Linked DNA regions of Homo sapiens. The protein of the gene in region 3 interacts with the protein of the main gene of each other region in a biochemical or structural test. Each region holds a gene or a part of one and is shown on either strand. Other genes may lie near its edges.

What was found.
Region 1: the proteins of ITSN1 (region 3) and SCAMP1 form a complex in vitro, tested with the Homo sapiens proteins (one study listed by BioGRID).
Region 2: the proteins of ITSN1 (region 3) and NR5A1 interact in a surface display test, tested with the Homo sapiens proteins (one large-scale study listed by IntAct).
Region 4: the proteins of ITSN1 (region 3) and AJUBA interact in a test that uses a peptide from one of them, tested with the Homo sapiens proteins (one large-scale study listed by BioGRID).

The regions. Positions count from the first base shown.
Region 1 is NC_000005.10:78,415,296-78,420,129, reverse strand, and holds part of SCAMP1 (secretory carrier-associated membrane protein 1), read right to left. Parts: intron 4,611-4,834; coding exon 4,512-4,610; intron 3,590-4,511; coding exon 3,481-3,589; intron 1,356-3,480; coding exon 1,227-1,355; intron 1-1,226. UniProt on the Homo sapiens protein: Functions in post-Golgi recycling pathways. Acts as a recycling carrier to the cell surface.
Region 2 is NC_000009.12:124,489,887-124,494,720, forward strand, and holds part of NR5A1 (steroidogenic factor 1), read right to left. Parts: intron 3,264-4,834; coding exon 3,144-3,263; intron 1,343-3,143; coding exon 1,195-1,342; intron 1-1,194. UniProt on the Homo sapiens protein: Transcriptional activator. Essential for sexual differentiation and formation of the primary steroidogenic tissues. Binds to the Ad4 site found in the promoter region of steroidogenic P450 genes such as CYP11A, CYP11B and CYP21B.
Region 3 is NC_000021.9:33,882,905-33,887,738, reverse strand, and holds part of ITSN1 (intersectin-1), read right to left. Parts: intron 4,190-4,834; coding exon 4,068-4,189; intron 2,699-4,067; coding exon 2,616-2,698; intron 2,301-2,615; coding exon 2,217-2,300; intron 1,453-2,216; coding exon 1,279-1,452; intron 1-1,278. UniProt on the Homo sapiens protein: Adapter protein that provides a link between the endocytic membrane traffic and the actin assembly machinery. Acts as a guanine nucleotide exchange factor (GEF) for CDC42, and thereby stimulates actin nucleation mediated by WASL and the ARP2/3 complex.
Region 4 is NC_000014.9:22,972,039-22,976,872, forward strand, and holds part of AJUBA (LIM domain-containing protein ajuba), read right to left. Parts: intron 4,805-4,834; exon of another isoform or gene 4,675-4,804; coding exon 4,607-4,674; intron 4,481-4,606; coding exon 4,418-4,480; intron 3,067-4,417; coding exon 2,936-3,066; intron 2,853-2,935; coding exon 2,801-2,852; intron 2,078-2,800; coding exon 2,009-2,077; intron 1,531-2,008; coding exon 1,405-1,530; 3' UTR 1-1,404.

The DNA of each region.
Region 1 (4,834 bases), on a different chromosome or scaffold from region 3:
GAACCAAGATCGTGCCATTGCACTCCAGCCTAGGCAACAAAGCAAGACTCTGTCTCAAAATAAAATAAAATGCTAGGACAATTTCTGCCCATTTAAAAAAATAAACATATATAAAATATAAATGCATATATTATATTGATTAAATAAGAGTTGGTTAGCATGTACATATATGGAATCAGACATTTAATATTAAAAATATATACTACTGACACTGAGGATTCAGCAAAAGATATTAGATCAAGAATATCTCGAAAAATACTAATGAAGAGTTAAAAATAGACTATCCATTAGGAAACACTTCTCACATTCCAAAACAACTTGACATACATGAAGAATGCTCCTAAAAGATTTTAAGGAAAATTATCTCATCCATTAAGGGAAGGGTGGTAGTCTCATTAATCATAAAGTAAAAACAAGTAAATTTCCTCCATCAAGAATGTACCCTACAAATTATCCATTAACCCAGATGTTGTGCATGTGAGAACCCTCAATAGCTACCTCCCCTTCTGACAGGGTATCAAAATGAGGCTGAGACTACTGTTTGGAATAAAAATGAAACAGAGAGTAAGTGGGAGGTCTGTGCACACAGAGTAAAACTGTTAACGGCTTGACATTTTGTTTCAGTATTCCATGAGTTATTATACTCAAAGTGATGTAAGCATCAGAGCCCCAAACGTATATTCTAATGTTCCGTTCAACAAAATGTCCTGTATTAATTAAGCACTTTCAATAATAAAAGTATCGCAATTGAAAACAAAAAGTAAACTGTACTCAAAGCTATAAAAAGAACACTTAGTTTATGTAATAATTTTATGCCCTTTTAAAAATAGCTAAAACGCCTACATTTAACAGAATTCTTTTAAATGGCCTTCCTCTGCATAAAATTAGTATGCACTATTTTTTCCAAGCAAATCATGTCTAGATAACATCTTTCAAGGAAAAAGAATCTTATAAAATTTTACCCACATGACAGAGAAGTTGTCTTTTCCTCAAAAGAATGCCAGTTCTCAACATACAAGTTTTTCTCAGCCAAGGACTTACATTGTCACATATAGTACAATTCTGAAGTACCTAAATAGGATATGTTTCACTCTGAAATCATGATTATTAAGCTTTATCTATAGAAAAAGAAGACTGGTTTGCTATACTATCCTTGAAATAAAAATGCGGATTTTGACAACAAAAATACAAATTCTAAGCAAAGATGTAAATTGTTGTATACTCACACATCCACAAGTAGTACATAAGCTTTACTGTCTTTTGGAATTCTACAGGAATGTCTACAGAAAAATCCTGATAGAAACAAGGTCCGACAGGAAAATTGCTAGGAAGAGGTGGCCAATTATTTTTTCTACCTGTAAATTTTTTTTAGAAAAAGAAAAGGTTATTTATATTATAACAAATGTGATATTATTTTTTGTTTCATAATAAAGAAAAACTCTATTATGTTAACAAAAGTTCAGAAAAACTGTAGAACTATATCTTTGTATTCCTAGAACTCTGAAAGACAAGCTTTAGATTTTTAAAAAATTTTCTCAGAATATCATCACCTTAGAGCACATTAGATAGTAAAATAATTTTCCAGTGTCATATCATACCATGTTTAGCAGGAACCATTTATGTACAGAAAAAACAAGAAACAAAAAGAAAGCACATATCCAGTGCTTCTACCCTAAAACAGATTTATTTCACAGTCCAAAGAGTCTGGCTGGCATGAAAGGGCCATCCAGTTTTTAAACTTCAATTTTCTCCTCAGCATCTTAAATCTTCAAATATAATTCTGTTATAATTCCTATCTCAAGTGGAGAAAGACTAGCTTCTAATTTTTTCAAGTTTTCTGTTAAGTCCAAGATTAAACCAATACCAAAGAATCAAATTTAGAATACTCAAAATCTGGGAAAAAATAATATCCAAAAGATACATGTACGAAAACCCTACAACAAAGAAAACATGAAACAGTCATGATAAGGAAGCTGAAGAATTATAGAACCTTTAAAAATGCAGAGAAAAACAAATTCAAACTGTAAAGGGAAAAAAATGTGTCTACATAAAGAAACCAGATTAAAAATAAGACTTGAGAAATGGTGGGGGAAATAAAAAATTAAAATAAAGAAGTCAAAACATGAAAATAGCGGGTAAAAACAGCACCTAAGGCCATTTCCCGATTTTAGATGTTATATCCCACAGTTTTTAAAAATTCAATTTTACCTACTTTTCCCAGACCAGGGTAATTTTTATAGAAAGAACAATAACCTATTTCTGATTCTCCCCAATGAGTCTCCTGTGTTCCATTTATCATACTATTCAAATTTCATATAGTTCATTTCTCATACCAATCTCATACTATTTGAGAAGCGGCAGTGAATACTCGTAAAGAAGAGAGGCTCTGGAACCAGAAGTGGCTAGCCACTTACTGGCAAGGTCGCCTTGGGCAACTTACTCTCTCCTCCGAGCCTTAGTTTCCATATCTGTAAAATGAGAATAAAAACTCTATCACCCCTCACAGGATTGTATTGATGATTTAAGTATGAGTTAAGAGGGGAAAAGTACTAAAATGTGCTAACATACTGCAGTCTAATTGTTAATTTCCTACTCTTTGTTACTGTCTTTACTAACATAACTCTCATAGAAATAGTTTGTATTTGCCAGTGCTAAAGAAATAGGATGGATTTTAGTTACAGGTACTTCAGAAACATTGGTCCCAGTTCAACTTTTAGTTTCTCCTTCTATAGATGCTACCTCTGATGCTGCAAGCAAGAAAATGACCCAGGATAAATGTGTTCTCATGAGGCCCTAGACTTACACATTCTAAGTTAAAAAGAAATAGTTCTGTATATTGTTATTGTTCTAGCTTTGCATTGCATCACTATCCCAGACATCCTAACAATGACTTATCTAGCTCTTTTATCTCTTCTTACTCAGAGACTGCTAGCTTTCCCTAAGAGACTCCTTTGAAGTGCTTTGGCAGGCACAAACTTAATAGAATTCACTGCAACAATTCACCACTTATTTCTTTGGCATCATATGAATACCTTAGGCTTCCAATTTTTCTAACATGATTTGACAAAATACTTGCGAGGACTGGGGCAGATAATCTGAAATTAACCTGAATAAATCAGGTAAAAGTCAAATGTAGGGTACATGCAAATGTACTCATAAAGAGTCCACAGAACCAAGGAGGGCCTAACTGCAGAATCAAAGGCTCCTGGCCTCAGAGTAAGCAAAAATTATCATATTCACATTCATTTTCTGTGTGATGAGGCTAACACTGTTCTAAGCTATCAACAAAAGACTATGCAAATCAGCCAAGATTAGAAGGCTACAGAGTATCAAACAGGCAATCTGCTGTGTCTGATCTCCTTGTTAGAACAGGAAAACAGGGTAGGGTTTTATCCACAGGCCAAATGACCTAGGAGCTAGTATAGACATAATGTAAAGTATTTAAAAGTTATTTTTATTTCAAATTTCTTTGGATACTACCATGTTGACTGAGGTTTTGCATTTCTCGTTCCCGACGATCTAATTCTGCGGCTTTTCTTTCTAGTTCTTCCTGGCGCTTAAGAAGTTCAGCTTGGGCCAATGCATGTTCCTAAATAAAAAATATCAATATGTGAATAGACTGTCAGAAGTATAAAATACTTTAACATTTATATGCTAACTCCTACTTCTCTACTATGAGAGAAACCTAATTCAAACACACTTCCAAAGTACAGGAATTTACTGAAGATCATAGTTACAGAAAATATTATGAGGATATTTGGTCCATTTGGTCTTTGGGTTCCAGAAACTCTCAGTGGGAATGTTGGGTCCATTAGGAGAGGAAAACTTCTCTTAGTAAAAGTAGTCACAATCTTTAGGTAATCTGGAAAATGAAATTAAGATGACCTCTATGCCTAAATGAGTGAAGAACAGAGGCAATGGGAACAGTTGAGGAAAATGAACAATAGAAAAAAGGGCAACTGAATTGGCTCCTATTAATCAGATTAAATGATATATAAGGCCACCAATGCAAGAATATTTTCTAATATCTTAAATGTTATAGGAGAATGAGGTCAAAAGATGTGATTAAGAAATTCTTTATAACTCAATTTGCCCTTACATGCTATCAGGCATCTTATTAATCTCCTTTCTTCTCAGATTTTTGCCATCTTCTACCTCCTAACACTGTTATTTTACCATTGCAACGCTCTCCCAATAATATCTATTATTCCATCATTTTTACCTTAATGGTAGTGTGCATTAAAAAGTGGGACCAAAGGCAATAAAAATTTATCCACTGAGATGATACATAAATTCAATAATTCCTAATAATGGAATAAAGCAAATGGTATAAGCTGACAAAAAGAGGAATGAGTATTTGAAGGGTGACAAGACAGCAAATCCAGACTTGAAAGTGAGTTAAAAATTAAGCAACAGAAATGTAACCATATAAAGATTTATTTTGCTCTGAAAGCAAATGTTATTGATATTATAATGGCCAATATGAATTTATACAACTAACATGAACTAACCTTTGCAATCTGTGTATAAGCTGGATGTTCCTCTGTTGGTTTCATTATTGCTGGTTGTGTATTGGGTACATTAGGCATCTTCACACCGCCTGGTGGAGGCTAGGAGGATTAAGAGAAGGAAAATTATGTAACACAGAGATCCAACTTTAACTTCTTTCAAAAAGTATAACACCAATAAAATGAAAAATCCCAAAATCTGCATCTCTTCATTCCCTGCTCTCTCATAGTCAAGTGTGTGGCAAAGAGCTGCTTAAATTCTCCATCTCCATTTTCTCCAACTCATTCATTTTTCAACTCTACAATCAGACTGCTACTTATAACAC
Region 2 (4,834 bases), on a different chromosome or scaffold from region 3:
TGCACCCAGCCACATGGCATGGAGGATGTCACCAATCCCACCCAAGCACTGGGCTTCCCACTTTTCGTTAATCCCCTCTGCCTCCACAACACTCCCCACTCCCCACTCCTCCCTCTCTCTGGCAGGCATGCCCCTCGCAGACTGTGACTATAATGCCAGCCACCAAGACAATACCTTAATCCTGCCCCCTCTCCAGGTGATGAAGCACTCACTCATCTCTATCCCATCCCACCTGCATCACTGCAAAATAATTCATTCCCCCAGAAAACTCCTACTCATCCTCCAAAACCCTGCTCAGATGCCCCTCTTCCAGGAAGCCTTCCAGAAAGAGCTCTGCTCCCCACCCAGGGTTCCCTAAGCCACACCCATCTCTCTGTCTCAGCCCTAACCACCCAGGCTGTAGGTCTTTTCACGATTGGCAAGGGACAGCTATGTCCTCAGCATCTCTGGGCATGGGGAGGGCATTTGTGATGGCTTTCCAGGGAGTGAGGGTGCAGACTGGAGTGGCCCAGGCAGGGTTGGGGTCAGGAGGGCAACGGGAAGGAGACCCCCCAAGTGCTTGGGGAGTGAGGTGGGTGGCCGGGCTGGGCTGGGCCAGGCCTGCTCTCTGCCTCTCCTCTGCTTTCTTTTCCTCCTTAGCACTGGTCACAACCTTCCTGGCTATGCCTGCCTAATCGTGTTAGGAACCTACGTCTTACTAATCATATTATGCTCATGATCTGTCTCCCCTAGAGAAGGTCAGTACCACAAGGGCTGGGCTTGGGGGGTTTTTGCTCACAGCGGTATTCCCAGTGCCTTCTCCAGTGCAATTTCTCGGTGCCTGTTTGTAGAGTCAATGAATGGATGCACGTGTGCATGAGCAAAGGGGTCCAGGCCCCCAGGAGGTACAGTCAAAATTGGGGCCCCCTAGATCCAGGGATTAGAGAAAACAGGGACCCCAGGATGGGAGCCTGGAATAAAAATCCTAAAGTCACATGGGCCACCAGAGCGGGAGCAGCCCCCATTTAAGAGCCAGGCCCTGGCCGGGGGCCCTCAGACCTTTGTTCACTGAATGAGTAAGGGAGGGGTCCTTTCTCCCCGAGGCTCCTTCGTGGCCACTCTGGCCACAGCAGGGCTACCTCTCCAGCCTCACCCACCCTCCCACCCACCCGCCTCTGGCTGTCTCCACCTCTCTGTCACTGGAGCTGCACTCACCCAGGCTGAAGAGGATGATGAACTTGAGGCAGACAAACTCCTGCCGGTCCAGCTGCAGCGCAAGCAGCTGCAGCACCAGCTCCTGCGCCCGCAACACCAGGCTGTGCAGCAGCGAGCCCGCCTGGGTGGCCACTGTGGTCAGCTCCACCTGGGGGCAGAGGGCACGGGGCGGGGGACAGTCAGAGGACGTGGGTCCGGGCAGGTGGCTCTCTGATGGGGGATGCAGGGCTGAGGGCATGGATTGGAGGTGCAGGTCAGATGGGCTGGCGTCAGGAGGGCCCAGCCTTGGTGCCGAGCCAGGCACGGGTAACATCTGCACAGCCCCGGGGACGCTGCCGGGCCCACCCTTCCGAGCTCTCCTCAACCCGCCAAGCCCGGAGCTGAGGCACCCACGTTCTGCCCGCGTCCACCCCTCCTTCACACACAAACCCCAGCACCAGGCCCAGCAGCACCAGCAGCTCAGGGGGCCCCTCTACATGCTGGGAGGGGAGGGGTTGGGGAGGGCAGGCCTGTGTGGGGACACACAGACACATCCACATGGCTTCCCAGAGCCCCCATGTTCACACCTACACGCTGGGTCACAGCTCAGCTCAGAGTCACACACACACACACACGAGCACAGTCATGGGGTCGCCCACTCTGTGAAGTGAAGGCACACACGTGTGCACACGGCCACACCCGCCCTTGTACGCTCACACTCACGGCAACACATACACCCATGTATGTGATCACATTTACGGGTTGATGGGAAGACAGTGACACCCACACACTGATGTGTGTGGAGATTTTGCACAATAAAACACAGGCAGGCACACACACACACACACACAAACAGGCATTCCCATGGCCACAGAGACTCAGCCAGCCTGCGGACACCCACACTTCATGCAGACTGCAGGCACCTGCGCTCACAGGGAGCCCCAAAGACACCCCCCTGGGACCAGTGCTGCCCGTCCCGTCCTCCTGCCCCGATGGCCTGTGACACCGAGGAGAGAGCTGGAGATGAGCAGTGGGGGCCTGGGAGGGCTGGAGCTGGGAGCAGAGTCTGTCTTCCCCACCCCACAGCACCCACCGACCCCACGGCCCTTCCTGTGTCCCCACCTGAGAGTGGCACTCCTGCCAGCAGGCTGGACCCTGGCCATCAACCCCCTTCTCTGCCTCCCCCCCTCCCTCTCTTTCCCTACAGCCCATCTCTCCAGGTGAGTCTTCCTCCGTGGCTGTGCCCCCGTGTCCCCACCCTGGCCCCCCACCTCCCATCCTGACCCCTCCGCCTGCCTCCTCAGATACCACCTGGCCATGTCCCTCCTCCTCCTAAAGCTCTCCCCGGACCCCTGCTGCATCTGGACTTTCTACTCCCCAGATCCTCATTCCCTGCTCTAAGGGGGCCCAAATTCCGACTCTGAGCTCTCTGGAGCCCTTTGCCCATTCATTCATTCATTCATTCATTCGAGATTTAGGGCCTGCAAGGTTTGCCTGCTAAGCCAGCACTAGCAACCCCCTAGCCTCCCTCATCTCTCACCTCATGCCACCCCCACACCGGCACCAGCAGGGCCCGGGGGCTCCACACTTCCACCCTCTCTGAGCCTGCGGTAGACGTGGGGACTGCCCCCCTCATCCCTCATTCCCCAGCCAACTCCAGTGTGTTATTTCCAGACCCAGGGCCACCATCACCTCCTCCTCCATGAGCCTCTCCTCACCATGCCCACACCCCCTGAGCTGCTCCCCAAGAGCAGGGCTCCCAGGGGCCGGCGCCTCTCAAGCCTGGGCCAGGGCTGCTCACAGAGGGTTTGGGCCAGTGGGTGTTCCATGAACGTGGGGAAAGGGCTGATAATTAGGGTGCCCAGAGCCAGCCCCGAGAGGCCTGGGTCCTCCTCTCCGGGGCCCTGAATCCTGGAAGTGCACAGCGGGGCCAGGGCGGGGCCCAGGGGCGGGGCCGAGGGACTGGTCACCTCCTGCCCGGTGACCAGCAGGATGCTGCCCTCCTTGCCGTGCTGGACCTGGCGGTAGATGTGGTCGAACACCAGCAGCTCGCTCCAGCAGTTCTGCAGCAGCGTCATCTGGTCGGCCACCTGGAAGGAAGAGGCACGCGGGGGGCCGGGCTCCAGCCAGGGTCCAGGGACCTTCCTCTCACCCCTTCTCCTCCCACTGAGACCCAACTAGGCGTGCAGCCTGGGCAAGCTAACCTCTCTGTGCCCATCTACCCAGATGTCTAGGCTATCAAAGTGCAACAGAGGTCTGGCCAGTTAACAAAGGGATGTTTGGGGGTTGAATGGGCCAGGCTTCAGGCCCCACCTCTGTCTTTTGTATGACTTTACGTAAGTCCTGGTAACCTTTCTGTGCCTCAGTTTTCTCATCTGTAAAGTGGGCAAAGTACTGAGCGGACAGTCCAGTACATGTTAGGTATGCCATACATGTTAGTGACTAATGTCCATGCAGGTGCTCTGCAAAGGACTCCTACAAATGCCTGGCAAGGTTATTATTAATTTTAACCTTGTCCACATTTAAAAGCCTGTGGTCGGTCACACCTCTGGCAGCCCCAACTGCTCAAACAGGAGCCATGAGGGAGAAACCAAGGGCTTCCCCCCCGGGCCTACGCAGAGCTCTCAGGCTCAGGAGGAGGAGGGAGGTCCCACCTGGCCTGAGGTCAGGCCCAGGGCATGAGCAGGGGGGCGGCAATGGCCTGGCACATGAAGCAGAAACGAACAGCAACAAGGGGCTGATTCCGAATGCCCAGGCTGCGGCCAGAGACACTCGGTGCAGGGGCAGGGCCAGCCCCTGTTTGGAGTGTCCTTTGACTCTGCAGGACTCAGAAGCAGAGCCAGGGATCCCCTGGCCCCAATCCCTATTTTTCAGCTGAGGAATCCGCCACCCGGAAAGGGCAAGAGACTCTCCCGGGATCACACAGAGGCAGGGCCAGGCCAGGGCCACGGCTGGCATTCCCGGTCCACAATCTCCACTGTGACAAAACGAGCCCTTCTGGGTATTTGGAAGCACACTGGGCACTGCAGATGGGCCTGGGCAGACACAGCCCCATCCCTCTCAGCCCGTGCCACTCACCAGCTGGCCACCATCGACCCAAAAGACACTTCTGGCGCACCTTCCTGGGCCGTGCCCTATGGCAAATGCAAACCATGACAGCTGACAGTCATTCCACTGCAGCCCTACAGCCCTGCGAGTTTCGTATAGTCGCCACCCACATGATAGAGAGAAGAAACTGAACAGAGAGGCCACACAGCTCTGTCTAGTTCCAGATTTGCGCTCTTAACCACTAGGTGTGGAAGAGGACCTCTCACTCACCCTCCTTGCCATCCAGGAGTTCCTGGTCTCTCACAGGCTCCTTGCCTCCTCTACAGATCCTCTACCTGATCCCTCTCCTTCCTCGAGGCCCTCTCCACCCTCTGGATGCAGAATCTGCAACATCTCATGGCATCAGTTAAATGCCTCTGTCTTCACCAATACCTGTGAGGTCTGGGGAGGCAGAACTGGTGTTCAGCTCTTCTCTGGGCCCCAGAGCAGTGGTCAGAGGGGCTGATGACTGGCAAGGTGCTCCCCAAGACAAGCACAGAGAGCAGAGGGACCACTGCCCACCTGGGGCCAGAGACACAGAGAGGCCACTCCCCACCTGGGGCCAGAGACTCAG
Region 3 (4,834 bases):
TGCTACTTAGGAGGCTGAGGCAGGAGGATTGCTTGAGCCTGGGAGGTGGAGGCTGCAGTGAGCTGTGATTGCACCACTGTGCTCCAGCCTGAGTGACAGAGCGAGAACAACAAGAAAAAAGATAAATAAATAAAAAAAATAAAAAGAAAAAAGAATTAGAAGTTGACAGTACACATAGTAGTTAAGAGCCCAGACTTGGGAGCCAAACTGTTCCAGTCACACTCAAACATTTAACCAGCTACCACAACGAGTACCTAACTCACAATGAGATAATTCATATAAAAAGTACTAAAAGATGAAGGCCATATGGAGCCATTTAAACCTTGTACAGATAATGCTAGCATTTGACCCTCACTTCTTCGGTTATAATTAAGTTGAGACCATAATCTTTTAACTTACTCTGTGATTTTTTTTTTTTTGGAGACAGGATCTTGCTCTGTTGCCCAGGCTGGAATATAGTGGTACCATCATGGCTCACTGCAGCCTCGACCTCCCAGGCTCAAGCAATCCTCCTGCCTCAGCCTCCCGAGTAGCTGGAACTACAGGTGCATGCCACCATGCCTGGCTAAGTTTTGTATTTTTTTGTAGAGACAAGGTCCCACTATGTTGCCCAGGCTGGTCTTAGACTCCTGGGCTTAAGCGATCCTCCTGCCTCAGCCTCCCAAAGTGTTGGGATTCCAGGCCTGCAGCACCATGCCCACCGGTGATTTTTATTGGGTTGAGGGAGAGACAGGTAGTTTCTTGGAATCATTGGGCTGAGACTATTCTTTTCCAGGCCCAAGCAGAAACAGAAGGCTGGCTGAAGAAATGATTCATTCAACATGACTGCATCCCTTTGCCTACTTAATAAGTGGTACAAAAATGCCACCCAAAGGGACCTGGCCCATTCTGCGGCTCCTGTTGTGGGCTAACATCCTTGTTCCATTGGCCAGTTTCATCCATTGCCAGCACAGCTTTTTGCCAAGGACTGAAGAACTATGCTGAGGCTCTTAAACACACCCCTCTCCACAGTCACCTGCTTTGGAAAGCAGAAGATGGACGTGTTTGCCCAGGGCAGCTGGCACAATTCTAGACCAAGCATGCTCTGTCCACATGCAATGAGACGCCTCCAGAAGACTCCTCCAGGGGAGACAGAGCCTCGTCTTGTGCCAGCCAGCCTCATCTCTCAGGAGGGAAACCGAAGGAATCCTGGCACCAAGTCCCCAGGTAAGAAAACATTAACCCACGCAAACGAGTGCCAGGGAAGGAGGAATAACCACAGGGCCGCGTTCCACTCACCATCTGGTGAGAACTGGTCCCTCTCGAACACAGTGATGCAGAGGACTTCCTGCTCCAGGTCTCGGATGAAGAACTGGCAGTTGGAATTCCACTTGGGGTTCAGAGTGTCCTGGATCGTCTTGGTGATGTGGCACTGGGAACCCATGGTCACCTCACAGTACGGGTTGCTCTTTCCTGGAGGGAACAAAAGCCTTCGCCAGGTGGAACTCACACCTCATTTTGATCTCCACTCTTTTTTTTTTTTTTTTTTAGATGGATTCTTGCTCTGTCGCCCAGGCTGCAGTGCAGTGGTATGATCTCAGCTCATTGCAACCTCCACCTCCTGAGCTCAAGTGATTCTCCTGCCTCAGTCTCCTGAATGAATAGCTGGTATTACAGGTGGCTGCCCCCATGCCTGGCTAATTTTTTATATTTTTAGTAAAGACGGGCTTTCACCATGTTGGCCAGGCTGGTCTCAAACTCCTGACCTCAGGTGATCCACCTGCTTTGGCCTCCCAAAGCACTGGGATTACAGGTGTGAGCCACCATGCCCGGCCGCTCCCCACTCTTAATAACTGCTATGCTTAATAAGTGTCATTCGGTGGAGAATCCGGGTGGAAACTCCCAGAAGTCAGCTTCATCCTTAAACTAAAAACAAATACTTAATTGAGTGGGCTTTGAAACTAGGCCCTTCCTGTCTCGTTACTTTGGCCTGATCTTGTGTCACATCCACTGTGAATGCAGCCACTCAGATCCCTCGGAGAAGCAGAATGGTAGAAAGGATGGAAAAAAAAACACAAAACCTCCAGGTTTTTAACAAGTGCTAGTTAAACCAATTCTGGAAGGAGATCAGGGAGTATGGAAATAGCACATTTGATCTAGAGCCAGGTGGGGGTGTGGGGAACCCGGACCCTACTCCCAACCCCAAAGCAGGAGCCGGGGGCGCCTCACAGCCTTACCATGTGACCGACAGGGTTTCAACTCGATGCCTTCAACCACGTTCACCATCAACCTTCCAATGCCTGTTGCCCTTTGGGAACGGACTATGACGGCAGGAAAAACACAAAATGCTTCATTTGAACGTGCCACACCTTTCCCATCTCTGTGAGCCTCACAATGCATTTCATGTACCTCTCCCGACTCAAAAGTAATTCTTCCCTCTCCTTAAACACTTGCTTCCTTGCTCCTGGAATTTGCCCTCCATCCCCATCTGCATCCCACCCCAAGCTCACTTCCATCTCATTCCATGCCCCTCCTCTAGGTCCAGGGGATTCTTCTATTCTGAGGATTTTCAGCCCAGCCAAATGGCCCTCCCTCCTGCCCAGCTGTGCAGGACACCCCGCGGGGCCATGCATTACCCAGGTACGCTTTCTCGCGCTTCTTTTTCTCAGTCTCTATGTAGAGTTCAGAAGCAGCTTTGATTTTCTGCACCCAGGCAGTCCTTGGACAGAAAAAGACAGAAAGTTGCCAAACAGAAACTCAGGAAAAAGGCTTCAGGTCTGTTCAAACACTGTTGCCAGGACTCTGTTTCTTTGTTCATTTGATTTTAACAACAAAGGCTCGGGAAAGAAAATCTGATTTTATGTCACGTGACGCTAATACTTATTCCTGCCATCGATAAGAAAGGCATGAGGGCCATTTCCATGGATGTCCTCAAGACCTGCGATGATGTCCCCGGGGAAGAAAATCTGTGATAGATGCTGTCTTGGAGGCAACATCGGGACACGACTCCTCTTCCTTCCTTACCGAAGAGCAGCACATATTTGCCTAATCCAACAAAGCCAGAAGGATCTCGCTTATGAAATCACGCAAAGAAAGAACAAAAACCACTTCCCAGATTGGGAACCACTTCACACGAAAGACCAAAACGCCTTGGGGGAAGGCATTTGTGGCCGCGGTTTTCTCCTTCATTTTTTCTGAGAACCATATGCACAAAAGCTTTAGCCAATTTTCTTGCTTGGTGCAAATGCTCTTTGGAATGATGCTGGCCTTGTGTCAAGTTCACCCTTCAGAAAATGATCTATTTCATTTGGCTCCAGGGCAGTGTCTTGAAGACAGATTGAAGCAAAATACCCACAGCCCTAGGTTCCAGAATGCCCATTTAAGTCAGCCAAGGTGAGGAGAGGTTTGGGTTTGCGTGGTCCTATTAACCCCGAAATTACTTTCCTATTGGTTTCTGCCACCTGGGAAGCCAGGGGAAACCTGAGATGCTCTGTTTACCTCAAAGAATGCGAAACATTTCTTAATAAAACAACAACAACAACAACAACAATGCCAGGTGCAGTGGCTCACCCCTGTAATCCCAGAATTCTGGCATTCTGGGAGGCCAAGGCGGGTGGATCCCTTGAGCCCAGGAGTTTAAGACCAGCCTGGGCAACATGGCAAGAACCCATCTCTACAAAAAAATATAAAGAATTAGCCAGGCTTGGTAGCACATGCCTGTAGTCCCACATACCTGGGAGGCTAGGGTGGGAGGATTACCTGAGCCCAGGAGGTTAAGGCTGCAGTGAGCTGTGACTGCACTACTGCACTCCAGCCTGGGTGACAGAGTGAGACTCTGCCTTAAAAAAAAAAAAAAAAAAAAAAACTCAAGCAAAATTAGTTTGAATCCATGTTATTTTGGAAAGGGCATGCCATGTGACAGATTTTTGAGAGGCTGTAGAAAAAAGTAATAGCCCCATCCCCACTCCCAGCTAGGGGTGATGGCATTGCCACTTGGGAAACATTGGCACCTGATTAATCACCCGCCCCTTGTGTGTCCTAGAGCCGTGGAGCCCTGGGGCCCATGCTGGGGAGGCGGCAGGTCTCACCTTTCATTTATGCTTTCTGCTCGGAGAGTATAGACGCGGTCAATGTGGGAGATGTGGAAGATGGGCTCGTCTCCAGAAGGGTCGGTGGGTAATTTTACTAGAACCTCATTTAGGAAAATAGGCTGGAAAGTAACACACAGGCATTACAAAGCGAGGCTGGGGGTCTGTGTGCTCCGGTAAACCGTGAGTGTGTGAGCACACTTATGCCAATGTGTTCTAGTAAACGAGACTGCAAGTCAGCGCGTGTGTGCACACTCGTGCGTGTGTTTCAGTAACCTAGACTGAGCATGTGTGTGTGTTTCTGGGTGTGTTCCAGTAAACCAGACTAAGGGCGTGTGTGTTTTCCAGTAAAGAATCCCAGAATAATAATTTTGGGTTAGCATCAACTTTTACATATTACAAATTATAAATATGATAAATATGGGTTCCCCCGCCCACGATTTTGCGGGTATGTTTTAAGTCTTTCAGAATAAGATCTGGCTGGTGTCGCTTTTCCTGGTGTATTCTAAACAGCAGTTTTCATCCACTTTACATCAAGCAATTCCCTCCAAAGATTTTCACATGAAGTTTCTAGTAACTATATAACTACATAGCTCTTTTTTTTCCCATAATAAAGCTAACTGCTGCCTCAGAGAAAATTCTTCTGTAAAAACACCCCCATGCAGACAAATTTAGAAAAACAACGTCCCGTGACACAAAGACACACAAACACAGCCATGCACGTATGAGCAGACCATATAAACAGCTGAGGGAAATTCTCCACGTAT
Region 4 (4,834 bases), on a different chromosome or scaffold from region 3:
GACACCTAAATGGATATAAACACACCAAAATAGGAATTGAGCTTTTGGCAAATTAGTCATTAAGTCATTAACTTTAAGCAAACAAGTTTTCAGTAAATTGGTTTTAAGAGATCTAGCTTTAGGTGAACTAGTTTCAAGCAAACTGACTAGTATCAAATCAGTGTTTTGCTCCCTCCAGTTCCCCCCAACTCTAGTTTTGGGATTGTGATGGATGCAATCCGGGACCCCTCTGAGAGGTGGCAAGTGAGCTTCTACTAGGAAACCAAGTGTACAAGTGACCTGAGAAGAGAGTAAGAAAGAGTGAGAGAGAGACAGAGAGACAAGAGAGAGAGTGTGTGTGTGCATGAACACACCCACACATGCATACACTGGGCTATATGGCTCAGTGCACCTAAACTTGGGAATGTGGCTAAGCTGAAGCTTCCTAGACATCCCCCCAACAAGCTCCACACCCACAGAGATCTGCTCATTACCTCCCCCAGCCAAGGAGAAGAGCAACCACGTACAATCACCTACCTAGCCTCCCCAGACCCATGTAAGTTCCTGAGAAACAGGGAATACAGGCAGCAACCCCACTCAGAGCTGGTCCCCATTCTCAGACAGATAAGGAGCTCTCCTAGTCCTTAGAAGAAGGCCAAGAAATAACTCATTAATGAGGTCCAGAGTTTCTACCTCTTCATCCAGATATAGGTGCGGGACCCCATATCTGACACCATGTGTCACAAAAAGTGAGGAGCTTAAATTTGGTTGCCTAGCAGGAACTCACCACCCTAGACTTGCTACCTCTCAGGGACATCCCACACTGCATCAACCACAACCCCAAAACTCTGGGGTTTGGGGGAGCTGGAGGGAGAATTACACTTTGATTTGGTTCTAGTCAGTTTAGCTGAAACTAATTGATTTAAAGCTAGGTCCTCTACTCCTGGAATCCAGGACCAGAACATTGCGTGACTCATGCATAATCATACACTAGGCCAGACACAGTGGCTTACGCCTATAATCCCAGCACTTTGGGAGGCCAAGGTGGGAGGATCATTCGAGCCCAGGAGTTCAAGACTAGCCTGGGCAACATGGTGAGATCCCATCTCTAAAACAAACAAAATATATATACTGAAGATACAGAATCAGATGTTCAGAAAGTCCTGGAACCCTCCTGTGTGTGCCTAAGCTCAGACTGCACACATGGGAAAAAGGCCAGTCGCCCCCACCCTGGTAAATATAAGGTTTCTCTTCCACAATCCATTTGGAATATCATGATCTTTGGGTCTCCGGCCCTTGGGGTCCTCCCCAGAGGACTCTTCTGCCAGGCCTGCAGAGTGCATTCTTTGCCTTGGCTGGCCTCAGAGGGGCCCACTGGCCACAGCAGTTTGTCTGCAGGGTGACAGCAGCAGCAGTGATTGCAGCTCAGATATAGTTGGCAGGGGGTTGTCGGGCATTGAGCCGCTGCATGTGGCAACCATGGCAGAGCAAGTGCCCATCCAGAGGGAAACAGCAGCAGCCTTCCTCATCACTCAGCTGCATCCGGCAGTCCTAGGGAAGAAGGCACCTAGTTCACCTCAGCCTAGGCACCTTGGACACTGAGGGTATCTTAGGAGTCTGCCCTGCTCAACACCTGACTCCTAATAACTGGAAGAAAGGGATGGGGTGGGAAGGGAAGGATGGAAGGGATGGAAGAGCAATCTGAGAAAATACTAATACCTCAGCTGGACACCAGGTGTCACTGCTGCAGCAGAAATAATGACACAAGCCTGTCTTTCAAGAAGTTTGACCAGAGTCCCTAGTCTTAGAAAGTCCTGACTCTGGGAGAGTCAGATTCAGAAAGGACTAAGCTACTTGGACCAGAGAGAGTGGCTGGAGGACAAAAAAGAGACTGAAGATAGGTCACAATATCTTTCTGGTTTCCCATGCCCTACACCTCTCCCATAGATGTCTGGTTGTTGCAGGACTTGACTCCTCCCCTCTCCCCATTTCCACTTCTTCTCCAGCACCGCTGAACCCCAACACTCACCTCACAGTGGTAGCACTCAAAGTGATAATCCCGGTCCATGGATATCACCCTCACGATGTCCTCACAGCCCTGAAACATGCAGACCCCCATGGAGATGAGAGCAGCATGTTGCCTCACCTCCACCTTTCCCTCATATACAACCCTTCCCACCCCATGGGAAGATCATACAAATGCCCCCAGAGTCTCTCTGCAATCACCTGTAGTTTTAAGATGCTTCTGCAAATCCTACCAGAACTCTCATCTCCTTCACTGGGCTGCACCCATGGAGCACACTCCCTCTGTACAACAGCCCTGGCCTTACCTGCGTCTCTCAGTTGTGCAGGAAGCAAAGGGAAGGGAAGGGGACAGGAGGCCTAAATAAAGTAGGCTAGGCTGGGAACAAGGGGATCCAATAAGATCTGGTCCTCACTGGCTTTTGGTTTCTCTCCATAGGCACATCCCCTACACTCAGCTTAAATCATTTCTGACCCCTTCCTACCAGTGCTGAGGATTCTTCCCACCTTTTTCCAGCCCCTACATCTGCAGTCTGGTGACCTCGACCTCAAAGAAAGTCTCCTCCTCTGGACTGGGATAGAAGAGATGGAGCCTGGGCCCAGTTAGGCTTTCAGACATGTCCAGGCCCGGATATTAGGGTCAGGGTGGTGACCCCAAGAGGCAGAGTCACACGGGAATCTTCACAGAGTACATTCCTTGGCACTACCACTTCTGGCAGGAGGCCAGGCAGCATGTCCCTATCCCCTCCCCAAAGGCAGTGGCACTGGCTGCCCTGAAGGAGAACCCAGACATACTGACCTCAGAGGGGAGGATGGGTTGGCCACAGGCTGCACACTTAGGAGCATAATTTCTGAAAGAGAGAGGGAAGAGATGAGCTGAGGCTGGGGAATCCCTGGACCCAGTTCCACACTGCATCCCAAGGGGCAGACTCACTTGTGGTAGTCGGTGACACAGTATACTTGGTTGGAGAAGTCCACTGTGAAGGGGATGCCATCCAGGCACTTGTTGCAAACAATGCATCGGAAACAGCCTGGATGATAGGACTTCCCCATTGCTTGTAGGATCTGGCTCATGGGGTAGCAAGAGAATCAGTCTCCCTCCAGTCCCAGCTCTCCAGCTGCCCATTATGCTCCTTATTACTCCCATTAACCTCATCCAACCCGCTGCTATACTCCCAGAACAATGCTATGTAATGTCGGTGAAGAAGTCGTAAAATGGAGGCGGAGACCCTGAAAAGTGCCTGAGAGAGCATTCAGGCCAGCAGTGTTTCACTCTGGCTGCATATCAGGATCACCTAGGCAGCTTTTAAAAAACATCAATGCTTTGGCCCTCCTCCAGGCCTATTATCACAATCTGTGGTGATGGGATCCAAACACTGTTTTTTGTTTTGTTTTGTTTTTTAGTTCTTCCCAGCTGATCTGCTAGGCTACCATGATTGAGAATCACTGATTTAATCCTATCTTTTGTTTTTACAGAAAAGAAAACTGAGTCCCAAGTGATTCTAACCAGTAGCAGAAAGGGGATTAAGACTCAGGACTGGCCGGGCGCGGCGGCTTACGCCTGTAATCCCAGCACTTTGGGAGGCCGAGGTGGGCGGATCACAAGGTCAGGAGATCGAGACCATACTGGCTAACACAGTGAAACCCCGTCTCTACTAAAAACACACCAAAAAATTAGCCGGGCATGTGGCGGGCGCCTGTAGTCCCAGCTAGGCAGGAGAATGGCGTGAACCAGGAGGCGGAGCTTGCAGTAAGCCGAGATCGCACCACTGGACTCCAGCCTGGGCAACAGAGTGAGACTCCATCTCAAAAAAAAAAAAAAGAAGACGACTCAGGACCCCAGGCTGGGCATGGTGGCTCACGCCTATAATCTAGCACTTTGGGAGGCTGAGGCAGGAGGATCACTTGAGGCCAGGAATTCGAGACCAGCCTGGCCAACATGGCAAAACCTTTTATCTACTAAACATACAAAAATTAGCCAGGCATGGTGGCGCATGCCTGTAGTCCTAGCTACTTGGGAGGCTGAGGCACTAGAATCACTTGAACCTGGGAGGCGGAGGTTGCAGTGAGCCGAGATCATTCCACTTTGTCAGAGCGAGACTCTGTCTCAAAAAAAAAAAAAAAAAAAAGACTCAGGACCCCACACTCCTAGCTCAGGCTGGAAGGCCTGGCTGTGCCTGCAGAGTTAGGGAGGGGCTAGGTCATAGAAGCCTGGGTTGACAGGCTTTTGAGCCCAGACTTGATCCCATAGGCAGAGGGAAGCCACTGTAAACAGTTGCTCTGGGGAGGAATGGGATGAAAGTGATTCATCTGGTGACAGGCTTCTTTCCCCAACCTTCTCTCAATATCCATTTAGTCCCTGATCCCGCTCCTCAGCCTCACAGTGAGACTTCTCAGCTGAAAGCACTTTACTTACCTTCTCCAAAATCAAGTGACCACAGACACAGCATTTCTCAGCTGCCTCCTGAAACCCTGAAAACTAAAGTAAAAGACAAGACGAACGGAGGCTGTTATCAAACTGAGAATGATGGGTGGTACTCCAATGGGCCACCAAGAAGGGGGTCAGTATGGAAACCAATTCCAGGTCCAGGTGACCCTTACTCACCAGATAATCTTCCTCACAGTACACAGAGCCATTGACACTGTAGAAAGCCTTGCAACGCAAAGTTCGCCCTAGAAACAATAGAGAAGGGGCTGGAACCTATCCCACAGCCCAGGTGCAAGACTTCTGGGGTCACTGCTCCCCGCTGCTGCATAATATATTTAAACCTGGACTTTGTGCTTTTCCTCCTAACTGCTGTCTGTCCTTCCCCGCACAAAAATTCCATCTGAT